Regions from separate parts of the Homo sapiens genome. Here regions 2, 3 and 4 are each reported to be linked to region 1. The links are microRNA targets in miRTarBase. Many come from high-throughput screens and were not tested one by one. Region 1 holds a microRNA gene; each other region holds the end of a gene's coding sequence.

Region 1 (5,071 bases):
TCTTGGAGTCCATGCTCAGAGTGATCCTTCCAAGGTGTGAGTCCAATCATGTCACTGCTCTACTCAAAGCCCTCCAATGGCTTCAAAACAAAATCTAAAGTCCTTACCACCACTTGCAGGGTCCTCAGTGATCCACTCTGTCACCTCTCTCATGTCCTCTCCTGCCCACAGTCTCCTGCTCACTACTTTCCAGCTACACTGGCCTGCTTGTTCTTAGAACTCACCAAGCACACTCCTTCCTGAGAGCCTTCGTGCTTGCTGCTCGCCTTGCTTAGAAAATTCTTCACAGACTCAGATGACTCACTCCCTCCTTCTTCAGATTTTGACTCAAATGTCTCCTTACCAGAGAGGTCTTCTCTGATCTCCCATCTAAAAAACCACATTCTCTTAACCATGTCACTCTACCCTCCTTAATCTGCTTCATTTTCCTTCAAAGTACTTCCCAGAAGCTGGTGTATTATACATATTTATTTGCTGACACTCATCTTGGCCTCTCAAAGTATGTCTTGTCTCATTAGAACATAAGATCTAGGGGGTGGGGGAATAGGGGAGGGATAGCATTAGGAGAAATACCTAATGTAGATGACGGGTTGATGGGTGCAGCAAACCACCATGGCATGTATATACCTATGTAACAAAGCTGCATGTTGTGCACATTTATTCCAGAACCTAAAAATATATATATACATATATACACATATATACGTGTGTTCCTTATACATATATATATATAAGGAACATAAGATCCATAAAGCCAGGGGTTTTATCTGTTTTGCTCCCTGTTTTTTGAGACAGCCAAGTGTAAAGGGGTCCCCTGAGAAACTCCGACTGGCCTGCGCACTGGGAGAACAGGGTGGAGCTGCAGAAGTTCACACCCTTTGCAGCAGGAAGGAGCCTGGCCTCTCCTGATCCAGGGTAGTACATGGGATTCAATCAGTGAGGCAGGAAAAACCAGCAAGCAGGACTCTCACTTTGCTGAGAGTCCCTGTTTCCATTTATTTTCCTTTTTGCCCAATAAGTTCCATTCTTCTCACCCTTCAAAGTGTCTGCAAGCCTAATCTCTCATGGCTGTGTGACAAGAATCCGGCTTTTAGTTGAACTAAGGAGAAAGTCCTATAACACTTTAGCCTCAGAGCTTACAACAAAACATAATTAGTGCTCCATATATATTTGTTCAATACTTATGTATTCCCTTAATGTTTGTTATCTGTTGGGCATGGTCTCTAGCTGCTATCTTTACACACATCCTGTCTCTTCAACGGGAACATACGATTCTTAAAGGCCAGAGCTGAGTCTTAAAGCTCAAGGCCTTAACATAAAGAGGCCACTCCAAAGTGTATGTTGTTGACATTTGGAGGGAGGATACATTGGGGCAGTAACAGCTGTTGTTATGTTACCTACCCGCTCTTGGCAGGGCCCTGAGAAGCTGAGGTATGAGACACAACAGCATATTTAGGAGAGAGATGCCGCCTTGCTCCTTGAACAGGAGGAGCAAGGCGGCATCTCTCTGATACTAAAAGGAGAATACGGGAGCACCTTTCTTACCTACATTTCCCCTGGAACTAGTCTTTCCACTTGCAAGTTTGTTTACAATTCCACGTTCTTTGCAACTGAATGGGGCCTCACCCTCATTAATTGGTGGCAAAGGTCACTCCTTAACAGATGCTAAACAGAAGCAGAGCAAAGTTAAGGGTGGCTAAGGTCACACAGAGTCGTTGCTCAAATTTAGGAAGGAAACCCACCTAGTGTGAGGTGGGGCCCCAGGAGGGGCATCTGAGCCCCAAGAGAGCAGCTCTCTTTAGCCCCTGCTCTAGTTTCTTTGCAGTTCTCCTAAAGAAGTTCACCAGCAAGGCCATTTACCAGACACCAGGGAATCAGGCCACTTTCAAATGTTGATAGCATTACGCTTGCCAGAGGAGAAAGGGACAAGTGAGGAGACTGAAGACAGTGCTTTCAAGAAAAAGAAGAAAAAGATATTGAATGTGCACTCGCTAAGCCAAAAAAGCAAATGCCAGGAAGAACCGTGAGCCTTGTTTGAAGCCAAGTCTGCGCAGAAGAGTCCCAGGTGTAGGGAAGGAGGAGCTGAGGTGGTCTGAGGACGCACAGCAAATGCCCTGGGGGGTGGGGCGGGAGGAGAGAACATATTTTAAGCAACCTTAAAAGACTCGTTTTAGCATTCCGCAGGAAATGAAAAGCAGATGTGTTGGTTTGGAACTTGTTTACATATTTGGCCTCTGAGAAGCTTCCAGGACAGTTAGGACTGGAGAGAAGGGGTATTTTAGGCAAATGCTATAGTCTCCACTTGGAGAGAGTGGGGCCCTTCATTGGCTCACCTGCTTCCTGAGAAGCAAGCATTTAGGCTGAAAGACCATCATTGTCCCTAAGACAGGTCTGGCTAGAATAAACCAGGATTTGATATACAGAACTGGTCTCCTTGTACCTTCTTACAGAAACTAAGGGTTGTTGCACCTCCTCTCTTGCTTTCAAGTCACACCCACTGGGCAGAGAAGTGAAATCAGAGGCCTGGACATTGGGAGGATGATGGGATGGTTCACACCAAAGGTCCTGAGATTTGCAGAAGGCTTGTTAGAATACAGATTACTGGGTCTCACCAGCTCAGCCGAGCTAAGATGAGGCCAGTGGCTACACACTGGAATCATCTGGAGATTAAAATAGACTGATAGCTGAGCCCTGTTCCCACAGATTCTGATATTAATTGGTCTGGGGTGTGACTTAGGCATTTTTTAAAAATTATTTTTAATATATAATAGAGAGGGGGTCTTACCATGTTGCCTAGCTGGTCTCAAACTCCTGGCCTCAAGCAGTCCTCCTGACTCAGCCTCCCAAAGAGCTGGGATTATAGGCGTGAGCAACCATGCCCAGCTGACTTGGGCATTGTTTAAAGCTCTCCAGATAATTATAAGGTATAGCCAAGGTTGAGAACCATTGAACTATTTATCTTTTACCTGCTCTCATCATTCCATCCCTAGATTAACTTCAATTTACCTTCATAACATGTTCACAAGGTGGTTAGGACCACAGGAGACCGTGGGATCTAAATTAGGCATAAACCTGGATTTAGAGAAGGGGCTAAAAGAATATTGCTCTCAGAGACATCAACTATCAAAAAATCTATGTAAATGCAGGCAATTCCCCTTTTTTGTAGTATGTCCAGGAAATGGCGCTCCTTAAAAGATATTTTTTAGTTGCTAAGGGACAGGAAAAGTAGCAATCTTTAACACTTATTGAGCATTTATTATGTGCCAAGTACTCTTCCAAGTGCTTTCATTTTAAATTAATTTAATTTCCACAACAGCTCAATGATGTTGGAGCTGTTATTTTCCCCATTTAGCAAATGAGGAAACTGAGATACTAGGAGATGAACTAATTTGTCCAAAATCACACAATTAGTCAGTGGTAGAGCTGGCTTTCAAATTTTGGTGTGCCTCTGAATTACGGAGACTACGGAGACTCCGCTGAGAAAGAAAAATAGCTCAGATCAGTCTGAGCTATGTGAAGTATACAAAATTTATCAAGCCTGGAGAGACAGGAGTATGGGACTTCAGTCACATCTCTGCGCCCATGTCCAGGGCAACTGTGTAAAGGCATTTTGTTCCTGCTTAACTGCCTTACCCATTATCTTCATGTTGGAATTTGTGATGCAAAGAATAACACATACCCAATCAATAGCTTATGTTATTTTAGTATAAATTCTTGGTAAACAATTTAGGAGCTGCCTCTTCTTTATTCCTTAAAAATCCTCTTGTAGCTATTTCTAATCAGAGTGTGGGTTTAGGGCAACTTGAATCTATGCTCTTGGGTGGCCACCCTCAAGCTTTGAGCTTGAATAAACTTGAAGCCATCTTCACCATGTTAACAAGAATTCTGGACAGAAATATAGTTATGATTAAGCATTAATTAGGCTGCACTGTGGCTCACTTCCTTGTAACAACAGGAAGTGAAAGTTGTGGAGTACTAGATCCTGACCACTTGCATCCTCATTGTTCCTACAGATAGTATTTCTGTCTGAGGTTAGAATCATCAGGCCTCTGATTAAGATAGATAGAATCTCTGACATTAGAATCATAAGGCTTTTGTTTAAGAATTGCTTAAGATGTTTTTCAGATCCCAAATTTGAGCTGATGCCAACAAGTTTGAAGACCCCCAGAGGAGAGCAGAATCAGCATGAGAATATAGTTTCTTCATCTCCCTGTTCTATGACTTCATCCTGCACCCTTGGGCCAAGCAAAGATCTCCACACTTCAGCCCACTCCAAAATCACTAAAAATTCTAGACCCAAATTCCTTGGAGAGACTGATTTGAGGTTTCCTCCCATCACATTCAGCTGCCCTACAATTAAACCTCTTTCTCTCTTGCAACTAGGTGTTTCAGCGTATTGACTTGCTATGCACATTGGGCAATGAAACGATTATGGTTACAAACTCTATATTTAATCATCTCTTCAGAATCTCATTAATTTAGGTTGTGAACCCCAAATATCTGAGACAGGTCTCAATTTAGAAACTTTATTTTTTCAAGGTTAAGGATGCACCCGTGACACAGCCTCAGGAAGTCCCATGACATGTGCCCAAGGTGGTCGGGGCACAGCTTGGTTTCATACATTTTAGGAAGACATAAGACGTCAATCAATATATGTAAGATGTACATTGGTTCAATCAGAAAGGTGGGACAACTTGAAGCAGGGAGGGGGCCTCCAGGTCATAGATAGACAAACATTCTTTTGAGTTTCCAATTACCCTTTCCAAAAGAAGCAATCAGATATGCATTTATCTCAGTGAGCAGAGGGATGACTTTGCGTTCTGTTTGTCCTTTGTCCAAAAGGAATTTCCTTGTAGACAAATTGTGAGGCAGGTATATAGCTTTTTTATCTTAGTAGCTATCTCCTTTAAGGAATAGAATGGGAGGCATGTTTGCCCTAAGCAGCTCCCAGCTTGACTTTTCTCTTTGGGGGGGTCCAAAGATTTATTTTCCTTTCACAAGGTTGACACTGTTCAAAATACTAATGACCAGGCTCTAACCGAGACCAACTGGATCAGGATCTCCTGGAGTG
Region 2 (5,057 bases), not on the chromosome of region 1:
CAGTGAAGTCAGAGTTTCAGGTTTTGTCCATCCCAGATGGCTGCCCAGCACAACTGAGTTTTCCAGGAGGTGCAGGCCATAGAAACTGCGGTGGAGGTGGCCTACTAGGCAAATGCCAGCTAGCGATTAGTCAAGGTTGGTGGGCCAGTCTCCATGGCTATCCTGGGTGTTAACGGTGAAGGTGTCTTTCAGCAGGTAGAGAAGTCTATGTTTGGTCCAAGAGGGCATGAAGTAGTCACTGCAGATATGATGGGGCAGGGGTCCTCATAATGCTGATACAAGGTGCACAGGCAGTGCCTGGGCCCAAAGTGTGTCTGTGACGTGAAGGTAGAGAAACTTTTGTGCACGAGGCAGCTCCTCATAGACCAGATAGAGTCAAGCTGGGGTTAAGGGCTAGATGAGTGTTGCCTCTGTCCTGTGAAGATGGAAGGTGTGTAAACCCACTGGAGCACACCTAAACGTCTCAGTAGCTCTCTTCCTTCCTTTGTGGTAGGTACCTCATCCACTTTCAGCCCTGGTTGTAAGGAGGCTCATGCTGGATTGTGCTGCTTGCCAGGCCATAAACAGCCATTGTGACAGAGCACAGGAATAGCTTCTGTCACGTCTGCCTGCTCTGGGCCCAGAGTCCCACCTGACTGTGCTTCCTGGAGAAGCTTGACAGGATCTTTAAGTAATGAAATCAATCTTCCCATCTTTGGAGATAGCTGCCAGCTGTTGTATTCTTGGCCTGTGAATTGTAGACCCTTCCTGTTCAGTACGCACACCACAGCCAGGTGGCACTTTTCCTGTTGGGCCTCTGCATCAGGTGTTTGAGCAGGCTTCGAATTTCTGCTTGTGTCAAAGGGCCTACAGTAGTACCCCCTTATTTGAGGTTTTGTTTTCCACGTTTTCAGATACCCAACTTCAACCACAGTCCGAAAATTTTTAATGGAAAATCTACAAATAAACAATTCATAAATTTTAAGTTGATCTTGGAGGTGGTCCAGTCAAGCTAGAGTTTCAGGTTTTGTCCGTTTCAGATGGCTGCCAAATGCAAGTAGGGCTCTTGAGTGTTTCCAGGAGGTGTGGCTGTGAGTTGTCTGATGAAATATTTTGCCATCCTGCTCCGTCCCACCCAGGACATAAGTCATCACTTTGTCTGGAGGATCCACACCATGCACTCCCTGCCCATCAGTCACTTAGAAGCCGCCGTGGTTATCAGATGGACTGTCGTGGTATCACGGTGCTTGCATTCCAGTAACCCTTATTTTACTTGACAGTGGTCCCAAAGCACAAGAATAGTGACGCAGGCAACTTGGATATGCCAAAGAGAAGCTGTAAAGTGCTTCCTTTACGTGAAAAGGTGCAAGTTCCTGACTTAATAAGGTAAAAAACAGAAAAACAAAAAACCCTCATATGCTTCTATGAAGCGTAAGAAACCCTCATAGGTTTCTAAAGATTTAAGGTAAGAATGCATCTTCTATCCATAAGAATTTTCTTAGTCTGTTTTCTGTGGTCATAACAGAATAGACAGGCATAAGGGAGAGTCACCAGAACAGGACACTGAGTAATTTATAAAGAAGAGAGGTTTACTTTGGCTTACAATTCTGGAGGCCTAGGAGTCAAAGATCTGCCCACTATATCTGGTCAGCTTCCAGTGAGGCCTCTGCCATGTCACAGCATGGCAGAGAAGTGGAAAAGGAAGTGAGTGTGCCAAAGGGAGCCAAGGCAAGGAAGAACCTCACTTTGTAACAACCAGCTCTGACAGTTACTAACCGAGTCCTGCTAGACAGAGTGCTTGCTTTGGGATCCGAGATTAGTTCTTCCTCACCCTCGCTGTTTGCGGAGGTGGCAGCTGCTTTCTTAACTGTGTCCAGGTGGTGACTGGCAATGCCTGTGGTGCTGCTGGGGGTAATCTGGTGCACTCAGGATGATCACAGCTCACAGGCCTCCAGGTCAGCCAGGTGCAGAGTGGCAACTCTGAGGTGAGCCCCTATGATTTGGATGTGCTGCTCATGGGCTGCTGCTGGCAGCACCCAGCAGGCATTGTAGGGGGTGGTAAAGCCCTGGAGAAGCCGCACTGTCTCACTGGGAGCATGCAGAGGAACAGGGATGGCAGCAACATGCCCGTTGGTGATTTGGTGACTTTGCTAACGGCATTAGACCGGGGTATGTTGGAGAAGTCTCTTTCCCCAGTTGGCAGACAACAGATAAGCTTTCTGTGGAGAAGATGTACTTGAGCCTTCTTGGTCTATGGGGTCATGATGCCAGGACCTTTGGGGACGAGGAGCTCCTCTCCCACAGCTGAGGCTAGAAACATACCAGCTGGTGGTTGGCTCTTCAAGCCCAGGGTGTCCCCCAGCCTACAGCATTCCTACCACCCTCCTCCTAGAAGCCCACCTTCCTGTGGGACCAGAGTGGTCTTAAAAGTAATTTTGGCAAATTTTACCTGGTGGTGACCTCCAAAACAGAGGCACAAAGTAAAGATAGAAGGCAGCAACACATGTGAAAACAGAACAAAAACTGCCAGACCCACTGTAGAGTGTTCCTCAGACCTCACCCAATCTCTCGATCAGAGCCAGGCCCTGGCCACTCTCCCTTGATCCTCCTGTAGAAATGGGTGTCATCACTCATTGGCTTACTCAAATTTCATCCTCACTGCTAGTTGTGTTCTGAGGTTTTGGGTGGTCCCAGCTAGCCAGCTTCACAAGGGTGATTTATCCCTGTCATCAAAGATGAGTCTTAGACACCATCTAATGCTCAAGTAGTTTATTCCAGCAGTGCTCTTACAAGACAGAAAGCAGGAGCTGGCTGGTGTCATAGGCCGGATATAGTCAGAGGTCAGATGACCAACTGACTAGGAGAGCTTCTATTTGAGGACCGTTCTCAGAGTTTGGGAGATCTTTCCCATTTCTTATACATGTATTCAGTCTGGGTCAATTACCAAGTGTTTCTTTCATAGAGCAAGTTTAATCTAGTAAGGTTAGGCTTTGTTCTAAAATTTATGAAAGTTGCATCTGTGCTGAGGTGGCCTTGTCTTCTGGAAATCCCTAGGCCAGGTTGCATCCTGCTAAGTGACATGTAATATCACCACTGTGAGATGCTTGAGTGGGCCTTATCGCTATCGTTAATCTTAAAGCCATGAGATGTTTCTTGTAGTATACTACAGTTATTAAAATATTCTCTTTCTAAAAAAACTAAATTTTATTTGTGAACTCCTTTCCTATGTATTTAAGTTCCCCGATGTTTTTAACCTAGGAAAAGAATCTAACCAAATGAATCCACTGAAGCTTCCCTTTTAAAGTCCTAAAATATCCTTTGGGGTTGTAAAACAGACTTTCAAAGGGCAGTAAGTAATTTCAAAAGCTTTCTCTTTATCAAGAGAATCAAAAGACAATATGGCAAAAGACAAACAGCTTGGCTCGTGATGCTTTGGCTACTTGTATATCTTCTGACAGAGCAGAAGAAAGAAAGAATGAAGGAAGGAAAGGGAGGGAAGACAAGGAAGGAAGAAAGAAGGGAGAACATAAGAGCAAACAGCAAAATATTAAAAGATTGATTTAAAGTTATTTTTAAATATCCATATAATCTGTCAGTCGATGTGTTTAAATGCAACAGTTACCATTTTTAAAGAAATGGTCTATTTGTCATAATCCTCTTTGTATACTTACTTTTGCTAATACCTATATTTCTAAAGAAAAGCAAAAATTTTTCTTACAAGAAATATGAACACAACTCTATAGTATCACAATGCATAATGGTACCAAGAGACAGAGCCCTCTCTCTCCCGTGAGTTAGATTTAACCTTAGTGAACACAAAATCCTTTATGATCCCACGCTCTCCATTAGGCAATGTCAGAAAACATCCACAGCAAATGCTATAATGCACTTCGAACATGAATAAACATCAAGGCTTAGCTGGTTTTGCTAATGTTTCCTCATGACTCAAAAAACTATATTTTTAAATACAGAGTTCACTTGCTACTTTCACATGAACTTATTTTTAAGAACTAAAACATTACCCTAAAAAGTATTAATAATTTATTAAGCACCACTCTAAAAATTATTTCTGTAGACCTTTTCCACACAAGAAAAAAAATCAACATTATTTGTCTTTTCAGTTCAGAGGTCTCATGGTATTTTTTAAACATACTTAAAAGCATTCCATTTGTGATTTTCATGTACAATGTGAAAGTCTGTCCAAAAGTCATCCAAACCTAGGGTCAATTATACCCTTAGATGCTAGTTTTGTAGCTCACATGCACCTGAGCTGCAGAACCTTAGCAATAATACTCTGGTCTGGAACCTTCACTTTTAAAAGTCACCTGAGATTCCACACTTGACCTAGAACAAAGCAGCAATTTCTCTGAGTCATCCCTGTGGCTTCGTGTCCAGAGCTCACCTACACTTTGAGACCTGGGAAACAGGGTCTCAAATTGGATATAAGTCTCCTTTGCCAAATCATCTTCCCAAAAAGGTTCTGATTTACATTGCAGTTTGCAAACTTTGTACAACAAGAAACAAATCAATGGTAAGATAACAACACAGGCAGTACTGGTCACCACGAGAAGGAGAGACCATTGAGAATCATCTCCTTCAACTCTTTCAGTAGAAAAGGTGATGCATTGGTCTTTCTGGGGAGGCACTCCTTTTGGACAGACACAGGCCATGTATTGCCCACCGGGTTCCAAGCCATCTATGGTTACTTGGTTCTTGCTGGAGTCTGCATTCAACAGCAGCAGGTCCTTCCCACCATACTTGGAATACAACACAGTCACTGCAGAGTTATGTGTGGTGTTGATCATATTCCACGTCAATGTCACACTCTCTTTAGTCTCACTGACCACCCTGAGGTTTTCTATTGCGGCATTTGTCTCCGTAAGCATTGTTTGATCCAACAATGCCAGCTCTTCTTTCTTACTTGTGCTGGCTGGAGGAAGCTTACTTCCATTCTTTGCCACCTTTAAATTTCTTTTCCCACCTTGGTGGAGCTGGAATGATCGCTTGTTGGCCATGGTGGTACTTGCTGAGATGCTTGTGCTCAGAGTTGTGGTTGAAGAAACAGTGGAGGAGGAGAA
Region 3 (5,057 bases), not on the chromosome of region 1:
AGTAAGGCGTGGGAGGGGCGTGGGCGGGATGAGGGCAAGCTTTAAAGGCGGGGCGAGCCTCGGGGTAATGCGTGGGTGAGGCGAGGGCTAAACGGGCGGAATGAACTGGGAGTAAGATGCTGCCGAGTCCGGGCGAAAAGCAACGCATGCTGTTGGACAGGATACGAGCTTGAAGTGAGAGGGAATAGAGAAGAGGGGACGAAGAAGGGAGTTGAACGGGGTAGTAGTCAGCATAGGGTTGGGCCCTGGCTGCGTGAAGGAGCCGGAACTGGCCTGGGCCTTACAACTTCCTTAGGTAGCTGGTCACGCTCTGGGTGGGGTAGGGGCCTTGGCAGTCACTGGGACTCCTAACACCGGGCCAGCAGGAGACTAAGGCGCAGTAGCGGGGCCCAGAGCATACAAGGGATTGGGCTTTGGCTTCTCTGCTGCAGCCCTGAGCTCATAGAAGCCTCATTCCGCCGCCTCTTTCCTTTCTAGATCCGGGTCTTCCTCCAGCAGCTCAAGGGCCGCGTAGCCCGGGAGGCCATTCAGAAAGTGCATCCGGGTGGCCTTCAGGGACCAAGGCGCCGGGAGGCACAGCCCCCAGCCCCCATAGAGGTGAGGCAGATGAACAGGGTGAGGCTGTCCAGGGCAGGTCCCTGGTGGGTAGGTGGGAGTTGCGGGGGATAACCTGATTAGGGGATCCCCAGGAGGAGCAGGGCTTGGGGGGCCATTGCAGGCTGATCCCTGGGCTGACCCTGTACCTCTGGCTTCACTCAGGTCTGGACGGATCTGGCTGAGAAGATAACAGGGCCACTGGAAGAAGCCCTGGCAGTGGCTTTCTCGCAGGTACCGCCATTCCCCCAGGCAGGTCAGGGTGTCCCAGAGGACAGGGTCACATGGGCCAAATCATGTGAACCTGGGTCCTGGGCCCTTTTGCCAGCTCTGTGGACTCCGTCAGTCACTGGACACCTCGAGCCTCAGTGTCCCTGGCTCTGAGGCCATCTCTTGTCTGAGGAGCATCTTAGGGTGGCAGGGAGGATGGGGGAATGTGTAGACGGTGAGAAGACTTCCCAGCTCCTCTTCCTCCCTGATTGTTCTGCCTGCCAGGTGCTCACCATCGCGGCCACGGAACCGGTCACCCTCCTGCACTCCAAGCCCCCCAAGCCCACGCAGGCCCGTGGAAAGCCTTTGCTCCTGAGCGCCCCTGGAGGACAGGAAGACCCCGCCCCTGAAATACCTAGCTCTGCCCCTGCTGCACCTAGCTCCGCACCCAGGACTCCTGACCCTGCCCCTGAGAAACCTTCTGAGTCGTCGGCTGGTCCCTCCACTGAAGAAGACTTTGCTGTGGACTTTGAGAAGATCTACAAGTACTTGTCCTCTGTCTCCCGAAGTGGCCGCAGCCCCGAGCTCTCAGCAGCTGGTGAGAAGGGTGAGGGAGGGGGCAGGAGCAGAGGGATCAAGGGTCCCTGGCAGCAGGCAGGGGTGTCCCCTTACCCCTCTCCTCCATCCATCACTAGAGTCCGCTGTGGTCCTCGACCTGCTCATGTCACTTCCAGAGGAGCTGCCACTCCTGCCCTGCACAGCCCTGGTTGAGCATATGACGGAGACGTACCTACGCCTGACAGCCCCCCAGCCCATTCCCGCTGGAGGGAGCCTGGGGCCTGCAGCAGAAGGGGATGGGGCTGGCTCCAAGGCACCAGAGGAGACCCCCCCAGCCACCGAGAAGGCCGAGCACAGCGAACTGAAATCGCCTTGGCAAGCAGCTGGGATCTGTCCCCTGAACCCGTTCCTGGTGCCCCTGGAGCTTCTGGGTCGGGCAGCCACCCCTGCCAGGTGAGGGGCATGGCGGGCAGGAGGCCACACCAGGCCCCCCGCCCTGCCCCTCGGTTCTGCTCGGCTGGCCCTGGCTCTTTCTGAGGATCCCGTCATGGGGGAAGGTCCTTGAGATGATGCTCAGCTGTGGGGCGGGCCTCTAAGATGCCCCATACTTTGGGGGTCTCAGAAATGGAACCCCCGTTGTACAGGGGTTGGGTGGGGGTTGCAGGACTCCACTCACAAGCCTCCTGATGTCAAGGACAGGCGGACAGGGCTGGCCTCCCCCAGTCCCCAAGCCCCACTGTGCCTTGTTGTCTGCTGGGGGGCCATAGCTGGCACTGCCCACCGTAAAGGCCCTCGCACATTTTCCCCCTTCCTGTACACCTCGGGGCCAGCATCCTCACCTTCTTCAACTGACCAGTCGTGGTTACTCCCTGCTGCCAGGTCCTTCCCCTTCCCGGGGGTATTCTGTGACCATGAATAAAGTTATCATTCTCTTTCTCTTTCACCTGTGACTTAAAGATGGAAGTGGGGGCCCTGAAGTGTCAGAGCTTGGGGGTCACAGGGCTGGGGGTGTGTGCCAGGGAGGAGAGCTGCCACCTGACTGGTGTGATGAGGCCTGGGGTGAGGAGCCCCTTGGTGACTGTGAAGCTGACAAGTGTGGATGGGGAGAGCCGGCAGGGCACCTTGGGGACAGGCGTCAGGGATGGGTTTCAGAGTAGGGCAAAATCACATCGCACAGGTGGAGGGGAGAAGGCAGCAGAGAGTGGGGGTGACCCGGTGGAAGGAGTTGAGCCCCAGGCTGGGCGGTTAGAGGAAGATAGATAGGGGTGGGCTGCCCCGAGTGGCAGGAGGCTAGTGGGAGTGGAGTGTCCCCTGGGGTGGCTTTGGGACCTCAAGGATCCCTAGAAGGCGGGGAGGGAGGGGTACTGGAGTCAGGGCTGACCCCAAACCCCTGGGGGTGCTGGGACCCCGCTTGAGGCCCCCTCCATCAGCTTCACCTGCCCTGTGGGTGTGGACCGAGGGTCGGGTCCTAGAGAGGGAAGCAGATGTCCTCCCACGGCACCGCGTCCCACGCCCAGCTAGTAATCCAAGTCGGTAAATTCTCCGTTCTCGGAGCCTGTGCATTCACCCAGCCTGCCTTTTATAGAAACGCTCATTCCTCCCCCCACACACTGCACACGGCTCCCCTGGGGTGCACATCTCTTGGGAGGGCCTTGGAGCACAGCCAGCCCACTCCGTCCGTGGTCACCGCCCCACCGCACCAGACCCACAAACGCTGCCAATGGTGGTGGGCAGGGGGAGGAGGCTTAGGCTGCAGGTACGGTCGGTCGTCGGAGCCTCCCTCCAGGGCTGGCAGAGGGTGCGCCTCCCAGTTCCCCACAGGGCTGAGTCTCTCTCACCACCCCCGGCGCCTCCCCAGATCAACAGAATTGTGTGTGGAGGGGAGGCAGCTGGGGGTTACACATCAGCCCCCCCCCCCAAAGCCGGTGAAAGGTGCTTGTGATCTTGGTGTCTTTGCAGCCCTGGGAAGCTTTAAAAACATGCAAAAGCCAGACCTGGGTTCCACTTCCAGCCCTACCAGACTCTAGCCATGTGACTGTGGGCAAGTCAGTCACTGGAGCTGCCTGGCCCTCGGTCTCCTGGCCTGTAGAATAGGGATGCTAACAGGGCCTGGCTCATTCTCACGATCCCGAAGAGGAGACAGGCTATAAACAGGAGGTGCCAACTCAGCACGCTACTTGGCATGCAGTAAGCGCTCAATAATAGCTTTTATTATCATGTTCGGCTCAGAGGCAGGGAGGAGTGGAACGGCATGGGAGGGCTGCGGGAGGCACGGCAGGGGGGTCAGGGGCAAGTGGCAGGAGGGCGGATGGGGGGCAGCGGTGGGCACCGGGGCAGGGCGCGCTGACCTGTCCTGGGGCCCGGGTTGGGGGCAGAAATGAGCCTGCCCACGCTGTCCCGCCACGGCAGGCGCCACGCATCCTCGACACAGCCGCCATGGCAGGCCTTCGGGCTCCGTCTCCGGGACAGGCGGTGCAGGGCAAATTGGTATGCAGCGTCCGCCCCGTGGGCCCGGGAGAGCCTGCCCCGCAGGGACCAGAGCCCAAGGACGGGCTCAACACTCAGTCAAGGTGGGGTTGACGACGGCCAGACAACAGGGGAGGGAGGAGGGACAAGGGGGTCCCCACTTCCAGGGACGCACAATAGCAGAGCCACTTACACGCTGGGGAGGGGGCGGTGCGGGGGTCCTCCTCCCGCCCGGGATTCAGAGTCGGGGGTGGGGGCCAGCCGGGCGGGTGAGATGCGCAGAGAGGAAGGGACAGGGCGGATAAAGGCACGAGGTGGGGCTCCGGCCAGGCCAGGAAGGGACATGGGAGGGGTCTCGAGGGGGAGGGGCTGGGCTTCTCCCAACTCCCTCCCCCTCTCCCCCGGGCTGGGGGCTCCGGGGCGGGATCCTGAGCGCAGTCCTGGCCCCGCGGCGCCCCCCGCCGGGCCGGCCCTCTGAGACCCCGGCGCAGGGCCGGCTAGGGGGCGCCGCGCCCCTCACACCAACGCGTAGTCGAACTGCCCGCGCTCGAGCGCCTCCTTGTGGTCGGTCCAGGACGAGGCGGGCATGCGGCTGTAGGGGTCGAGCAGGATGCGCACGCAGCGCACCATCAACAGCACCAGCACCACGAGCAGGCAGAGCACGAAGGCGAACACCGTGCGCTGCTCCGCGTCCAGGCCCGCGCCCACCGGGGGCCCCGTCGACGGCGGCAGGGGCTCCGGCGACAGCGTCCACGTCGCGCTCATGGCTCACATCGCCGCGCGCCCTGCGGAGGAGGGGACCCGCCCCGGGCGCCGGGGATGAGGCTGCGCCCTCCCTCCCGCGCCTCCTCCGCTTCGCCCCCTCCTGCCGCCGCCGCCGCCGCCTCCCTTAACGTGCCCGACCCCATCCCCCGCCCGCGCCTCGGTCCCCGGGCTACGCCCATGCCCGGCCCGCCGGATCGCCGCCACCACCACGCGGGGACCCAACTCTGGCCGTGCGCGCAGGTGGGGGCGCTGAGAGCCGGGAAACGGAGCCGCGCCCGGCCTGGGCCGCACACAACAGGTGCGAAAGCGCGGCCGCGGCCCGGGCGCGCGGCGTGGGGACGGTCCCCGCGGCCCCTGCCCCCGCTCCCTTTGTTCTCGGCGGCCTGGGACCCCCTCCCCCACCGCCCCCGCCCCGGCGCGCCCCTCACCCTGGCTTCGACCCGGACGGGGACCGACCGCCCGGC
Region 4 (5,057 bases), not on the chromosome of region 1:
GACTGGTGTTTAGTACCATTACCATCTCTGAATTTTCTACTGCAATCACATGAGAAATAGAGGATGAGTTGATACGAATATATAGTAGAAGGAAAGGAAGGCATGCATACAGGGGCTGAAACAAAGAAGGGGAACTTTGAGAAAAACAGCTTCTTCATTCCACCCCTCCCTGCACTTGGCTTCCTGCCTCCAGGCTTAAGCCATATATAACAAGGCAGTTATAAGGCAGTGTTCCCAAGCCAAACCACTAACACTGTGTTTTCAGAAGCTGAGCTGTCTCTCTTGCTGCACAACGTGGTCCTGCTCTCCACCAACTACCTTGGGACAAGGCGCTGAATGAACCATGGAGCGGATGGCATTGTCCTGCAGTCGTATAGTATAGCAGTGCAGGAACAAACAGCACTTGCCAGCAAAGTCTGTGTGTACTGTTAAGTGTGTGGGAGGCAGAGAGAGGAGCAGGGGCCATGGGCTTCACAGCATGGCACACATGTGGGAACTGCAGACATTCCTCTCACAGCTAGAACTGAAACAAACCCTCTTGCTAGGGGTGGTCCGTGTGAGGTGTCATCCTGTCCCCCTCATAATTACTAATAGCTGGAACTGGCAGCAGCCTCTACTGGGCTTTTACTGTGATGTGTTCAGTTCATGTCCTAGGAAGTCAGCTTTTGCCCCAGGTGGGAATCCTTATTTGGCTTAGGACTGATCCACTTCCATGTTACTTACATCTGTGGGTTTTTGTTGTTGCTGTTAGAAAATTTGTGGCTGGTGAAAACAGCACTCCTTTGGCTGGAGCACATGTGTCCGTGCATGTACTTGGGTGTTTCCCTCCATCCTTTCTGATATGACCAAAAATCAAGTTGTTTTGTTTTTTGTCACCTTCACTGGCATGGGCTAACCACTTCTTTTTCAAACCCTCTGAACACCTTTTTCTGATGGGTAACTTGCAGGAATATTCTATTGGAAAAGATAACAGGAAGTACAAGTGCTTCTTGACCCCTTCCTCAATGTTTCTAGCCTTCACTCTCCATTGTCTTTTCTGGGCTGTATTACAGCCCTCTGTGGATCTTCAACTCTGCTGCCTCCACTGTGATGCAGCAGTCCAACTGTAACTGACAGTGGCTGCCTTCTCTGGGCCATGGATCACACCTGTAAGGTACTAATTACTGCCCAGCCTGGGGAGATCAGGAGAGGTCTGCATAGTTAGTAAGTTGGGTTTAGCTTTTGTGTGTGCATCAGTGACTTAGAGTTCTGTAATAACTTATTGTAAATGCATGAAGCACTGTTTTTAAACCCAAGTAAAGACTGCTTGAAACCTGTTGATGGAAATGACTTATGCATACTCTAATCATTTTGCTGTCTCCTTTTACAAGACTGACATAATCTAACAAATGGGGATTTAATTGGTTGGCATAGAACCTTCTGATGGGATGGAAGTTTTGCAGAAACTGATTTGAAGTTGATCTCCTTGCTGGACACTTTAAGGTGATAACAAGGAAAAGAGAATTTCATAAAGTTAATGGAATGAGGCCGGGCGCGGCGGCTCACGCCTGTAATCCCAGCACTTTGGGAGGCTGAGGCGAGCGGATCACAAGGTCAGGAGATCAAGACCATCCTGGCTAACACGGTGAAACCCCGTCTCAACTAAAATAGCAAAAAATTAGCCAGGCGTGGTGGTGGGCGCCTGTAGTCCCAGCTACTCAGGAGGCTGAGGCAGGAGAATGGCGTGAACCCGGGAGGCGGAGCTTGCAGTGAGCCGAGATTACGACACTGCACTCCAGTCTGGGCGACAGAATGAGATTCTGTCTCAAAAAAAAAAAAAAAAAAAAAGTTAATGGAATGAGAAAATGGGAGCCCAGAGTAGGGACAGGGCTAAGCTCCAACAGAGCAGGAGCAAGGCCTGCTTCAGCTGAACAGGTACACAAGGGCATATGAACCAAGTCCAGCTCTTGGTACTCCAAAGAGAATATTCTATTTTTCCATCACAAAATGTTTCTATTGTTAACATTAATTCCTAACTGACCTAATTAGTTTTATAACGAAGCTAGAGAAGCATCCTTTTTCTAACAAGTAACTGAACTGTGGCCTGCCGAGACAAAGAGTAACACATCATTCTTTTGAATATTTCTTTAATATTACATTTAAATATTCTCTTTAAATACAGCATTATCACAATGTAAAGAACCTAAAGGGGAAAAAATTATTTTCAGAGAACCAGACAAGCTTTGGATTCACATTGAAAATACTACCTGTGTACAGTATGTGAGAAAGGAAATTGGAAAATAATAAGGGTTGTGGTAATAAGAGTCATTTATCTAGGCCTAGACTGGGACTGAAGCTATCTGCTTCTATGATCAGAGGCCTAGCTTTCCTAGCAACCATGAGCTAGAATTCTGTCCAACTCAGGTAGCACCAGAAGTGAGATGGACTAGGTTGTAGAGAAGGCCTTTCGCTTGACAAGACAGTTAATGCTAAATGTTAATATTTAGCACTTAAAAGTTTGGGATCAGTGTGAGTCACAACTGTAGCGTTAATGAAGGGGATGGACTTAAATTAAGAAACTACAGGTTTTCAGAAACATATCTTGTGGGTTGGCAATGAGCTTAATAATTACAGATTCATATTCCTGGTTTGATCCCAAAAGCTAATGTGTTCCTCATCGTGCAGCTGGAATCTACTTCCTAGATTAAGCCGGAGCCTTCCTGCAGAGACAGTGGGCAAACCTCACCCTCCCCTTCCGACACAAACTTTGAAAAAGATTCTTTTCTCCATAAAGCCAAATTCCCAATTAAGCTTCAGTCCTGTGTTTGAGGGTACCAGTCTAAGGTAGGGGAGTCTAGTTCAGTTCTGGGTAGCTTCGAGAGCTCAGGTACTTAAAAGACTCTCAACTGTGTTTTGTGAGGCTAGGGGATGGGGAGAGATAAGGATCTGTGTACTTAAGTTCCCCTCCAAACTAAAACCAAGCAAAAACTGGAACAAATAGGAAAGGCAGAATGAACTAAAAAATGTTATGTGTATTAAATACAAATCTTTTCAGGCTCAGAGTTTAGAGACTTCAGGGGTGAAATGCTGCTGCGACATACGTGATGGTTTCTGTAAGACACCAGGGCCTTAATATCCCACCAGAAAAGGCTTTATGAGCAAGATAAGTAGGAGTAGTGTCTCCCCCCCAACACAGTTTTTCACTTTTGTGTGTGTGTGTGGTTAATAAACCATACCAGAAGTAAAGTATGGTGTAAAGGATGCTTGAGAAGAATAGTTTTGCTCCCTACTGCCTCCATTTTAGAACAGAGACAAAGATCACTTTGCTAATGAAAGGAAATCAGTGCTGTTCAATGGAGATCTTAGAACACAGGATGAACAGGAACTGTATTCCTCCTGACAGAGGTAAGAACTGAATCAAACTGAATGAGTTCCATTCTATACGCTTCAAAGGTTATAATTAGAACTTGAATCCTTTGGAATCTGGGAGTTGCATGTAGCATTTAAGAACTGGTTTGGCTTCCAATTTTTATATATCATCAAGATGGAGGGGTCCAATAAACATTTGCAATTCTTGGAATTGAACTGGAACAGTATAAGAACTCTAACCCGCTATGTTGAAAACGACCATGAGGGTAGATCCAGGAAAAAAGAACAAAAACTGATTGGTGACCTTAAGATTGCCACATTCTACATTCCACTAAAGCTCAGATCTCACAAAGAGGGAAAAACCTGGGTGAAAAAACAAGCATGGCACAAATATGTCATCTTTCCAGATAGCAAGCAGCCTGTTCCCGCTGCCTCCTTTGGCCACAGTTAATGCTCCACATAGGCCTCCTATGGGATGGGTGAGCCCCAGCCGAAAGCTGCCTGACAGTGCTAGTGTCAGACACGTACAGAAGGCTCAGGCTCGTTATACCATATCCCCAGCCAATCCAGCTCTTTCTCCGAAGGAAAAAGGATGGAGAGAAAAAAGACACATAGACAAGTTTAACTCTAGTACTTAAGAACATGTGGAAGAAACAATTCAAGTTACAGACCAGGAATCCCCAGTGTGGGGAACAGGTCAGAGAACACCAAACATGTCAAATATTAACTTATTTACCAAATATGGGATTGAAGGAAGGCAGGTTACATTTTTGTAAATCCTGGAGATTTTGTACAGAAGCAGAGACCCTTCCACTCCCTCCTCCCTAGACTCGACCAGGTGACTTTCCAGTTTGAAGTATTATGACACACCAAAATGGGATATCAGAATAACCACCGAGAAAAATGAGCTTGTACTCTGCCTGGGGCTTGGGAGAGAAAGGGCTTTGCCATGCTCTTCAAATTCTCGTGTTCTGGTCCCTACAGAAAGAATAGCTGCTTGAGTTACCCAGCTTTTCCTGTGAGATCCTAGTTCTTTGTTCCAGTGGCCCAGAAAGCTTAATGTTCAGCACTACGCAGCTTTCTTTGCCCCAAGACTATCCCCAGATCAAGGTAGGGCTGGTCTCCTTGGTACTGTTTCCCTTTTAAAAAATACTCAAACAATCCTTTCCCACCCATTCCCCAAAGACCCCAATAAAATAACATGGGAGCAGCAGCTGCTTCTACAGTTTTGTTTTGAAATGGTGTTAGATAAAATAAGGGAATAAATAGAGAATGGGTAAGAGGCAGGACCTCTAGCGCCTGTCACACTGCCAGAGGGAGTTCTAAGGAAGAATCTTCAGGGGGCCGATCCTCATTCTGCTGGGAGGTCTTCACCATCCCACAGCCCTCTTCATTGTCCGTGCGGAAGGGGAGGCTTGAGGGGGACCAGGAAGGGTGGAAGTCTTCATTTTCAGGCTCCTCAGGGTTACAATCTTCGGGCAATAGAGCTTCTAGGGTGGGTGTTTTCCCCACCTCTGATTTACAGAGGGCAGCTGGGTCTGTGGAGCTACAAGCCACGAGTGAGGTAACAGGGAGAGAGAAGACATTCAGATCCTTCTCCTTTGGGAAAGAGGCTGAGCCTTCTTCCGTACCAGGCTCTCCTTTCACTCCCAAGACTGGCCTCTGCTCCACTTGATAATAGACCAGGGGCCCACTGTTCAAGTAGGATG

What was found. The annotated mature microRNA hsa-miR-4708-5p reads AGAGAUGCCGCCUUGCUCCUU and lies in region 1 at 1,460-1,480, shown strand. An mRNA with a match to its seed (bases 2 to 7 or 8) in the 3' UTR can be bound and repressed. Matches are read on the target gene's strand: a 7mer-m8 pairs with bases 2 to 8, a 7mer-A1 pairs with bases 2 to 7 and ends in A, and an 8mer does both.
Region 2: miRTarBase lists LRIT3 as a target of hsa-miR-4708-5p. Seed matches in the 3' UTR shown: 7mer-A1 at 3,122-3,128 and 8mer at 3,076-3,083.
Region 3: miRTarBase lists CTXN1 as a target of hsa-miR-4708-5p. Seed matches in the 3' UTR shown: 8mer at 4,099-4,106.
Region 4: the mRNA of CSRNP2 is a reported target of hsa-miR-4708-5p. Seed matches in the 3' UTR shown: 7mer-A1 at 2,417-2,423.

The regions. Positions count from the first base shown.
Region 1 is chr14:65,331,564-65,336,634 of GRCh38, reverse strand. MIR4708 (microRNA 4708) reads left to right here and starts at 1,452; the gene lies at 1,452-1,518. RefSeq lists enhancers at 204-353, 414-513.
Region 2 is chr4:109,869,992-109,875,048 of GRCh38, reverse strand. LRIT3 (leucine rich repeat, Ig-like and transmembrane domains 3) reads right to left here. Exons shown (of 4, transcript NM_198506.5): 4 at 2,734-5,057. The coding sequence ends at 4,260. Among named protein-coding and RNA genes, the nearest start is that of LRIT3, 24 kb to the right of the region's middle.
Region 3 is chr19:7,920,946-7,926,002 of GRCh38, forward strand. CTXN1 (cortexin 1) reads right to left here. Exons shown (of 2, transcript NM_206833.4): 1 at 5,022-5,057; 2 at 3,546-4,613. The coding sequence starts at 4,593. The coding sequence ends at 4,345. It overlaps SNAPC2 (small nuclear RNA activating complex polypeptide 2), which reads left to right. Exons shown (of 5, transcript NM_003083.4): 2 at 478-597; 3 at 760-828; 4 at 1,090-1,402; 5 at 1,500-2,305. The coding sequence ends at 1,819. It overlaps LOC124904629 (a long non-coding RNA gene), which reads left to right and starts at 4,460. Exons shown (of 2, transcript XR_007067120.1): 1 at 4,460-4,891. RefSeq lists an enhancer at 621-1,223 and a silencer at 4,485-4,574.
Region 4 is chr12:51,059,096-51,064,152 of GRCh38, forward strand. It overlaps CSRNP2 (cysteine and serine rich nuclear protein 2), which reads right to left. Exons shown (of 5, transcript NM_030809.3): 5 at 2,110-5,057. The coding sequence ends at 4,651. It overlaps LETMD1 (LETM1 domain containing 1), which reads left to right. Exons shown (of 9, transcript NM_015416.5): 9 at 266-1,329. The coding sequence ends at 336. Among named protein-coding and RNA genes, the nearest start is that of LETMD1, 13 kb to the left of the region's middle.